Linked DNA regions of Homo sapiens. The protein of the gene in region 1 purifies or fractionates together with the protein of each later gene. This does not show direct contact. Each region holds a gene or a part of one and is shown on either strand. Other genes may lie near its edges.

What was found. The genes of interacting proteins can lie anywhere in the genome.
Region 2: the proteins of C5orf24 (region 1) and STRADA purify together in Homo sapiens (affinity purification with mass spectrometry; 2 studies listed by BioGRID and IntAct, with this or other methods). This does not show direct contact.

Annotation. Positions count from the first base shown.
Region 1 is NC_000005.10:134,848,844-134,852,830, reverse strand, and holds part of C5orf24 (UPF0461 protein C5orf24), read right to left. Parts: intron 1-3,987.
Region 2 is NC_000017.11:63,713,978-63,717,964, forward strand, and holds part of STRADA (STE20-related kinase adapter protein alpha), read right to left. Parts: intron 132-3,987; coding exon 29-131; intron 1-28. UniProt on the Homo sapiens protein: Pseudokinase which, in complex with CAB39/MO25 (CAB39/MO25alpha or CAB39L/MO25beta), binds to and activates STK11/LKB1.

The DNA of each region.
Region 1 (3,987 bases):
TCCCAACCTCAGGTGATCCGCCTTCCTTGGCCTCCCAAAGTGCTGGGATTATAGGCGTGAGCCACCGTGCCTGGCTGGAAATGACAGTTTTATAGAGACTACAGTATTATGTTGTGATGAGGTAAAAGAGATAAAGATATGGGTTCCAATTCGGATTTATAAAGAGTCACAAATGTATATTAAGGTCCAGCCTCAAGTTGTTAGGAGATATTTGTGTGCACCCTTCATACATGTGAGAGTGCACCAAAACCTCAGTTATGAAAACAGTTACTCCTAGAGGCTGCAAACAGGTAATAAGGTTAGCGAAAACCACTGTAAACTTACTTTAGTTTGTAAAGGCAAAAGGAAATGAGCATGAAGTCACAGAATCAAATTCTGTTAAATTATGAAACATTTGCTGAGAATCAACAGAGCAATTGGCAAGCTGGCTTAAAGTCTCAATTTGATGGAAAAATATCTACAGTGAGAAGCTACTTGTTTATGGCAAAAGCTTTTTAGACTTGAGAACATAAAACAAGACTGGGCTAAACACAAATATTAAGTGGAATAATTTTTTCACTCATTCCCCACAGATACAAGAACTAGATTATTGGCCAGGCGCGGTGGCTCACGCCTGTGATCCCAGCACTTTGGGAGGCCGAGGCAGGCGGATCACAAAGTCAGGAGATTGAGACCATCCTGGCTAACACAGTGAAACACCGTCTCTACTAAAAATACAAAAAATTAGCTGGGCGTGATGGCACGTGCCTGTAGTCCCAGCTACTCAGGAGGCTGAGGCAGGAGAATTGGTTGAACCCGGGAGGCAGAGGTTGCAGTGAGCTGAGATCGTGCCACTGCACTCCAGCCTGAGTGACAAGCAAGACTCCGTCTCAAAACAAAAAGGACTAGATTATTAATTATCATTTCACTAGCTCAAATTCTAATTTCAGATGAGAAAAAAGGAGACTCTCAAGATGAGTTCCAAACATAGTATTGGCTGAAAGTTAGCAATTTTTTAGGATTTTGTTATGTGCCAGGCAATAAGCTTGGTTCTTTGCACATTATCTGATTTAATCCTCAGTACAAGCCTATAAGGAACATACAATATTATTTTACAGACTTTAAGCATTCTGCCAGGGTCACACATTAGGAAATGGTTAGCCAAATATGACTTTTGATGATTCAACTTCAGAACCAACAATTTACAATGTAGCATACCATGGTTTTTCAATAGCAGCACTGTCATTTGGGTCAGATAATTTTGTTGTGGTTTGTCCACTGCATTGTACAATGTTTAGCAGCATCCCTGGCCTCTACCCACTAGATGTCAGTAGCAACACCTCTCTCCCTTCCCCTAAATATTTGACAATGAAAAATTTCTCCAGACATTGCCAAATGTTCCCTGGGGGGTGGGGGGCGGGGAATCCACCCTTCACCATGAAATCACTTGATTATACTAAAATGAAAACACAGACCCAACTTAAAATATTCTCACTTAAGTTTTTATTCACCTTTTTAGCCTCTTCCTCACCAAATATCCACAAATTCTTTCTTACTGCAAAGTCAAATAGATTTGGTTTCCAAATGGAAGAAAAGCAAATGCCAGAATTAGTAAAGACAACCAGGATGGCCACGATGGCTCACGCCTACAATCCCAGCACTGTGAGAGGCCAAGGCGGGAAAATCACCTAAGGTCAGGAGTTCAAGACCAGCTTGGCCAAAATGGCAAAACCCTGTTTCTACTAAAAATACAAAAATTTACAAAAATTTTGTGGGGGAAAAAAAAAAGTTCTGTGACTTACCAGGAGGGTAACAAAAATAAATAAATAAATAAATAAATAAATAAATAAATAAATATATGTATTTCTGTATGTATAAAATATGTATGTGTGTGTAGTGTGTGTGTGTGTGTGTATATATATATATATATATGAACATTCATAATCTATCAGAGAACTCAGGATATACAGTCTCAGCTTACATTATGTTAGGCTTTTAGAGGCAAAATGCCACTATCCTTGACTCAGATATCAATCCACACTGAAAAAAACATACCATTAAAAAATTAGTCGTGCGGCTGGGCATGGTGACTCATGCCTCTAATCCCAGCACTTCAGGAGGCTGAGGCAGGCAGATCACCTGAGGTCAGGAGTTTGAGACTAGCCTGGCCAAAATGGTAAAACCCCGTCTCTACTAAAAATACAAAAAAAAATTAGCCTGGTGTAGTGGTGCACGCCTGTAATCCCAGCTACTCGGGAGGCTGAGGCAGGAGTGTCGCTTGAACCCAGAAGGTGGAGGTTGCAATGAGCCAAGATCGCAACATTGCACTCCAGCCTGGGAGACAAGAGCGAAACTCCAACTCAAAAAAAAAAAAACACTTGCAATTTTTAAAAAGCATGCATCTTGGCCAGCCATGGTGGTTCACGCCTGTAATCCCAGCACTTTGGGAGGCCAAGGCGGGTGGATCACCTGAGGTCGGGAGTTTGAGACCAGCCTGACCAACATGGAGAAACCCCATCTCTACTAAAAATAAAATTTAGTTGGGCGTGGTGGTACATGCCTGTAATCCCAGCTACTCAGGACGCTGAGGCAGGAGAATCGCTTGAACCTGGGAGGAGGAGGTTGCAGTGAGCCGAGATCATGCCACTGCACTCCAGCCTGGGCAACAAGAGCAAACTCCATCTCAAAGAAAACAAACAAAAAACCACATATCTCCATTTCTTCATTCCTTCAATATTGTCCAGAATTTATGCCTTTAGTTTGTATTATGTAAATTTAGTTCTGACATAACTCACATTTATTGAGGGCCAACTCCATGCAAAACACTATTCTAAGCACAAATTGACAAGAGTAAAGCTATTTATTCCAATGGAAAGATAATGAGACACTGACTTAGCCAGGTGTGGTAGCTCACGCCTGTACTCCCAGCACTTTGGGAGGCTGAGGCGGGTGGATCACTTGAGGTCAGGAGTTCGAGACCAGCCTGGCCAACAGGGAGAAACCCCGTCACTACAAAAAATACAAAAATTAGCTGGGCATGGAGGCATGCACTTGTAATCCCAGCTACTCGGAAGGCTGAGGCAGCAGAATTGCTTGAACCCGGGAGGCAGAGGTTGCAGTGAGCTGAGATCACACCTCTGCACTCCAGGCTGGGCAACAGAGTGAGACTCTCTCTTTAAAAAAAAAAAAAAAAAAAAAAAAAAAGACACTGACTTAACATTTCTGAAGTGCAGGGCTTCTGTATGTTCTATATATTCCTTCCCTGCTACTGCCAAGAAATCAGTACAGTATTCTACTTAATAATTAATAAACAAGCTGGACAAGGAATTTAATATGAGAATTACTCGTAAATAATTAACTTTAAAAACGCAAACAGAACTAAAACCAATCCTTTCCTATTTTCAGACTTCAACTTTATTAAGTTGGGAATCAGCACTATTAGATGCTTATGTGCATAACCATCACTATATATTTACATGCAGCATATTTATGTTTATATAAAAAGTATTTGCATGTGAGCTTAACCCTGCACTCCATAATGCCTTCCTCCTCCCACTTCCGAGCTAACTATTGTTGAAACACTCCCTTTTTTTTTTTGAGACGAAGTCTAGCTCTGTTGCCCAGGCTGGAGTGCAGTGACTTGATCTTGGCTCACTGCAACCTCTGGAACCCCGGTTTAAGCGATTCTCCTGCCTCAGCCTCCGAAGTAGCTGGGATTACAGGCATGTGCCACCACGCCCAGCTAATTTTTGTATATTTAGTAGAGATGGGGTTTCATTATGTTGGCCAGGCTGGTGTTGAACTCCTGACCTCGTGATCCACCCGCTCAGCCTCCCAAAGTACTGGGATTACAGGCGTGAGCCACCGCGCCCAGCCTCTTTTTTTTTTTTTTTTGAGACGGAGTTTCACTCTTGTTGCCCAGGCTGGAGTGCAATGGTGCAATCTTGACTCACCGCAACCTCTGCCTCCCGGGTTCAAGCGATTCTCCTGCCTCAGCCTCCTGAGTAG
Region 2 (3,987 bases), on another chromosome or scaffold:
GGAGAGTAAGGACGGCCCCTGCACATACCTATCACAGTGAGCAGCTCGTAACACCCTCCCTCTGGCAGAAAGCTACTCATGACCTCCTGTTTAGAGAAGGATGCTATTGACTCTGAGCTCGCATCATTGGTCTAAAAAAGAAAAAGAAAAATAGGTTAGTAGAGAAAACTGGGGGTGGGATGGGAGTGGGGTGAAGGTGGTAATTCAGACCCACGAGGAGACTGGCATCTAAACACACACACAAATCCCGACTCAGTGCCAGCACTATTTGAAGAGAAACAAAACACTACATTCAGGGTAGTAATCAGCACTAATATCAGAGCAAGTGTTAGGGTTGTCTACAAATGAGGAGACAAGGACCTGTTCCCATCAAATGTTAATCTGCTTGTCCTTTCCAACAATCAATGCATTTGCTAAAAGCTATGAAATTCTCACTTGGAGAAGGGATGTCTAGAGAATGAAAGCATGTTTGGAAAAGAGAAGCAGGTGGAGAGGTAGGGGTTCTCATGAATTTCCTGATGCATTAGGATCCTATTTTTAAGGTCCTCACCACAAGATCCCAAAAGGTCAAACGCTGAATCTTGCTCTAGGGAAAATGTGGCCAGGAGTAGCCCCCTCTTTAGCAAACCAAGAGCCCGGGCCAGTCATTGCCTGACATTTCCAAGTGAAGTGGGAGAACCCTGATGCCCTGAGCTGCAGGCAAGGCACAGAGCTGTCAGGTCTCAGGCATCGTCCAGGCAGCTGACATGGCCTGCTCCCTCGTTCCTGCCCACGTGTGCTGTGAGTGAAGCTGGAGTCCAGCCACTTAGGATGTGTCACAACTCTGGCCTCTAAGGTCCTAGAGGAAGGTGTCCAGCCATGTCTGAGTTTGTGCAAAACACACGGCAGACCAACAGCTCTTCTTTCAGCTTAATGGACTGTTTCCTTCTTCCACACCTAAATTTATGTGTATGATTTAGGGACTGTGACTGCTTTTCTTTTAGATTCTCTTTCTTTAGATGCACATCTAACTGAAATGGAGAAACCTGGGCCAGCTCATGTTTCATGTGCTGCACTCATAAACCTGACCTCCAGGCAGAAAAAGTCCTTTGTGAAAGTATGAGAGGCTCCTGACCCAGCACTACCCAGAAGAGCACGAGCTGAGAGTGTTCTGAAAAGGCGGTGCTTGAACAACTCTTTGGGAAGCGGCTCTGCAGAGGAAACCATAAAGATGACGGTGCTCTATACCTGTAAGATGACCAGAGTATACTTTCCAGAGCACTTCCAAATTGCACATGATTCCTCCATAGCTCAGTCAAGTAGCCGGGACAGATCTTATCTCCACTTTTCACTAACAAAAACGAGGGCCAAGGAGATTATGTGACTTGCCAAAAATCAAAACGTGAGTACATGGCACAGGACCCAGGCCCAAACCAGTGAGATTAATCTACCACCCTGTTGGCTGACGTTTCACGTGTATCTGGTTTGTTTGTTGTTTTGTTGCTGTTGTTTTTAAGATATGGGTTATCTCTTTGTCGCTCAGGCTAAAGTGCAGTGGTGAGTTCCTGGCTCACCGTGGCCTCGAACTCCTGGGCTCAATTGATCCTCCTGCCTCAGCCTCCCAAGTAGCTGAGATTATTGGCAGGAGCTGAGATTATTGGCTGTATGTGGTTTCAAAACAGTTGATGCTGCTGATGGGGAAAGAAACCCTCAAGTGGGCTCTGTCTCCCTCACCACTTACCCTGGCAATAAGAGGAACCTAGTCAAGCAAAATTAAGCCCTGTCACCAAATTCCATTTCTAATTTAATCAATTTTTAAATTTCTAAGATTTGGCCATATTGTTGTATTTCACTGTAGTTCGCCCATTTTCACTGCTGTATCATATATTCAGCACATGAATATATCTCAGTTTATCCAATTCCAACTTTGATGGCTCATTTGGGTTGTTTTTCAGTTCTGCTATTATGGACTGTGCTACTATAAACATGTTTGAATATGTATCCTGACTAAAGCTTGTAATTAGGAGTGGCTGGAATTGCTAGTGACAGAGCATATGAACAATCAACTGTTTGAGACAATGCCAAATTATTTTCCAAAATGGTTATACCAATTTACACTCCCACCAGCAACGTACGTGGTTTTTTTTTTTTTTTTTTTTAGACGGAGTCTCACTCTGTCACCAGGCTGGAGTGCAGTGGCACGATCTTGGCTCAATGCAAGCTCCGCCTCCTGGGTCCAAGCAATTCTCCTGCCTCAGCCTCCCAGGTAGCTGGGACTATAGGTGTGAGCCACCATGCCTGGCTAAGTTTTGTATTTTTTTGTAGAGATGGGGTTTTGCCATGTTGCCCAGCTGGTCTTGAACTCCTGACCTCAAGTGACCCACCCAGCTTGGCCTCCCAAAGTGCTAACATTACAGGCATGAGCCACTGTGCCCGGCCACATGTGTTCTTATTAATTTATCTTTTCCCCAACACTTGGTATTTTCAGATTTCTTAATTTTTGCCAGTCTCATGGATTTGATTTACATTTCCCTGATTACTAATGAAGATGAGGATCTTTTCATATATTTATCAGTCATGTGAGCGTTCTCCAAGGTGAAAATGCCTCTTCCTGTCTCTTGACCATTTTCCTGTTGTTTCAGTGCAGGATTTCCCCAAAGTAGGCCCCACGGAACTCTGATTCTGCCAGTTGGATGGAAAAAGTTTCCATGTCCAGTGAAGTTAGGAAATGCAGCACACTCTCTCATGGAGGATCACAAGGTGTACGTCCATATTAAAGGCACTGAGAAATTCTGTAGTAAGAAAACTTACTGTGTTTAACCCAGCATTTCCCAAAGAGATCTGTCTAGGGAACCTTTTGTGCCTAACATCTGTTAAATTTTGGGAAAGATAATTGGGAAAGGCTGTTTTAAATAAAACATATGCTACAATGCAAAGAGCATAGGCTTATGGGCCACATAGAGGCAGAATTTGAACTCAGGTCTATTACTGGTTCTGTGACCCTGGGCAAGTCACTCTGATCTCTTGGGATCTCCATTATATCAGCAGCTGAATAATTTCCATCTCATAGTGTTGTATCTATTAGATGAGATAAAATATGTTAAGAGCTTAGTGCTACCTGGTGTATAAAAGACATTCAATACATGTGAATCCTATTCTCCTCCTCCTTCTATTGCTCTCTACTTTTTGGTGACTCTCCTGTTGAACAAATAAAATGGAAAAGAGAAAATGGAGGAAACAGAATCCTAAGCAGAGCTTGATCAGTAAAGTTGATTTGATACTGGTTTTTATACTTATCTGTGTTTTCTAATGCTCTCAAAATAAATTCTAGGATCATTAAATTTTATTTTATTTTATTTATTTATTTTTGAGACGGAGTCTCACTTTGTCACCCAGGCTGGAGTGCAATGGCGTGATCTCAGCTCACTATAGCCTCTGCCTTTTGGGTTTAAACGATTCTCCTGCCTCAGCCTTATAAGTAGCTGGGACTACAGGTGCGAACCACCATGCCCGGCTAAGTTTATTTATTTATTTATTTATTTTAGACAGACTCTCACTCTGTTGCCCAGGCTGGAGTGCAGTAGTGCGATCTCAGCTTACTGCAACCTCTGCCTCCTGGGTTCAAGTGATTCTCCTGCCTCAGCCTCCCAAGTAGCTGGGATTACAGATGCCTGCCACCACCCCTAATTTCTGTATTTTTAGTAGAGACAGGGTTTCACCATGTTGGCCAGATTGGTCTCGAACTCCTGACTTCAAGTGATCTACCCGCCTCAGCCTCTCAAAGTGCTGGGATTACAGGTGTGAGCCACCATGCCCAGCTAATTTTTGTATTTTTAGTAGAGACAGGGTTTCACCATGTTGGCCAGACTGGCCTTGAACTCCTGGACCTCAAGTGATCCTCCCACCTTGGCCTCTCAAAGTGCTGGGATTATAGGCGTGAGCCACCATGCCTGGCCTAGGATCACTAAATTTTTAAAAATTATTATTATTATTATTTGAGATAGGCTC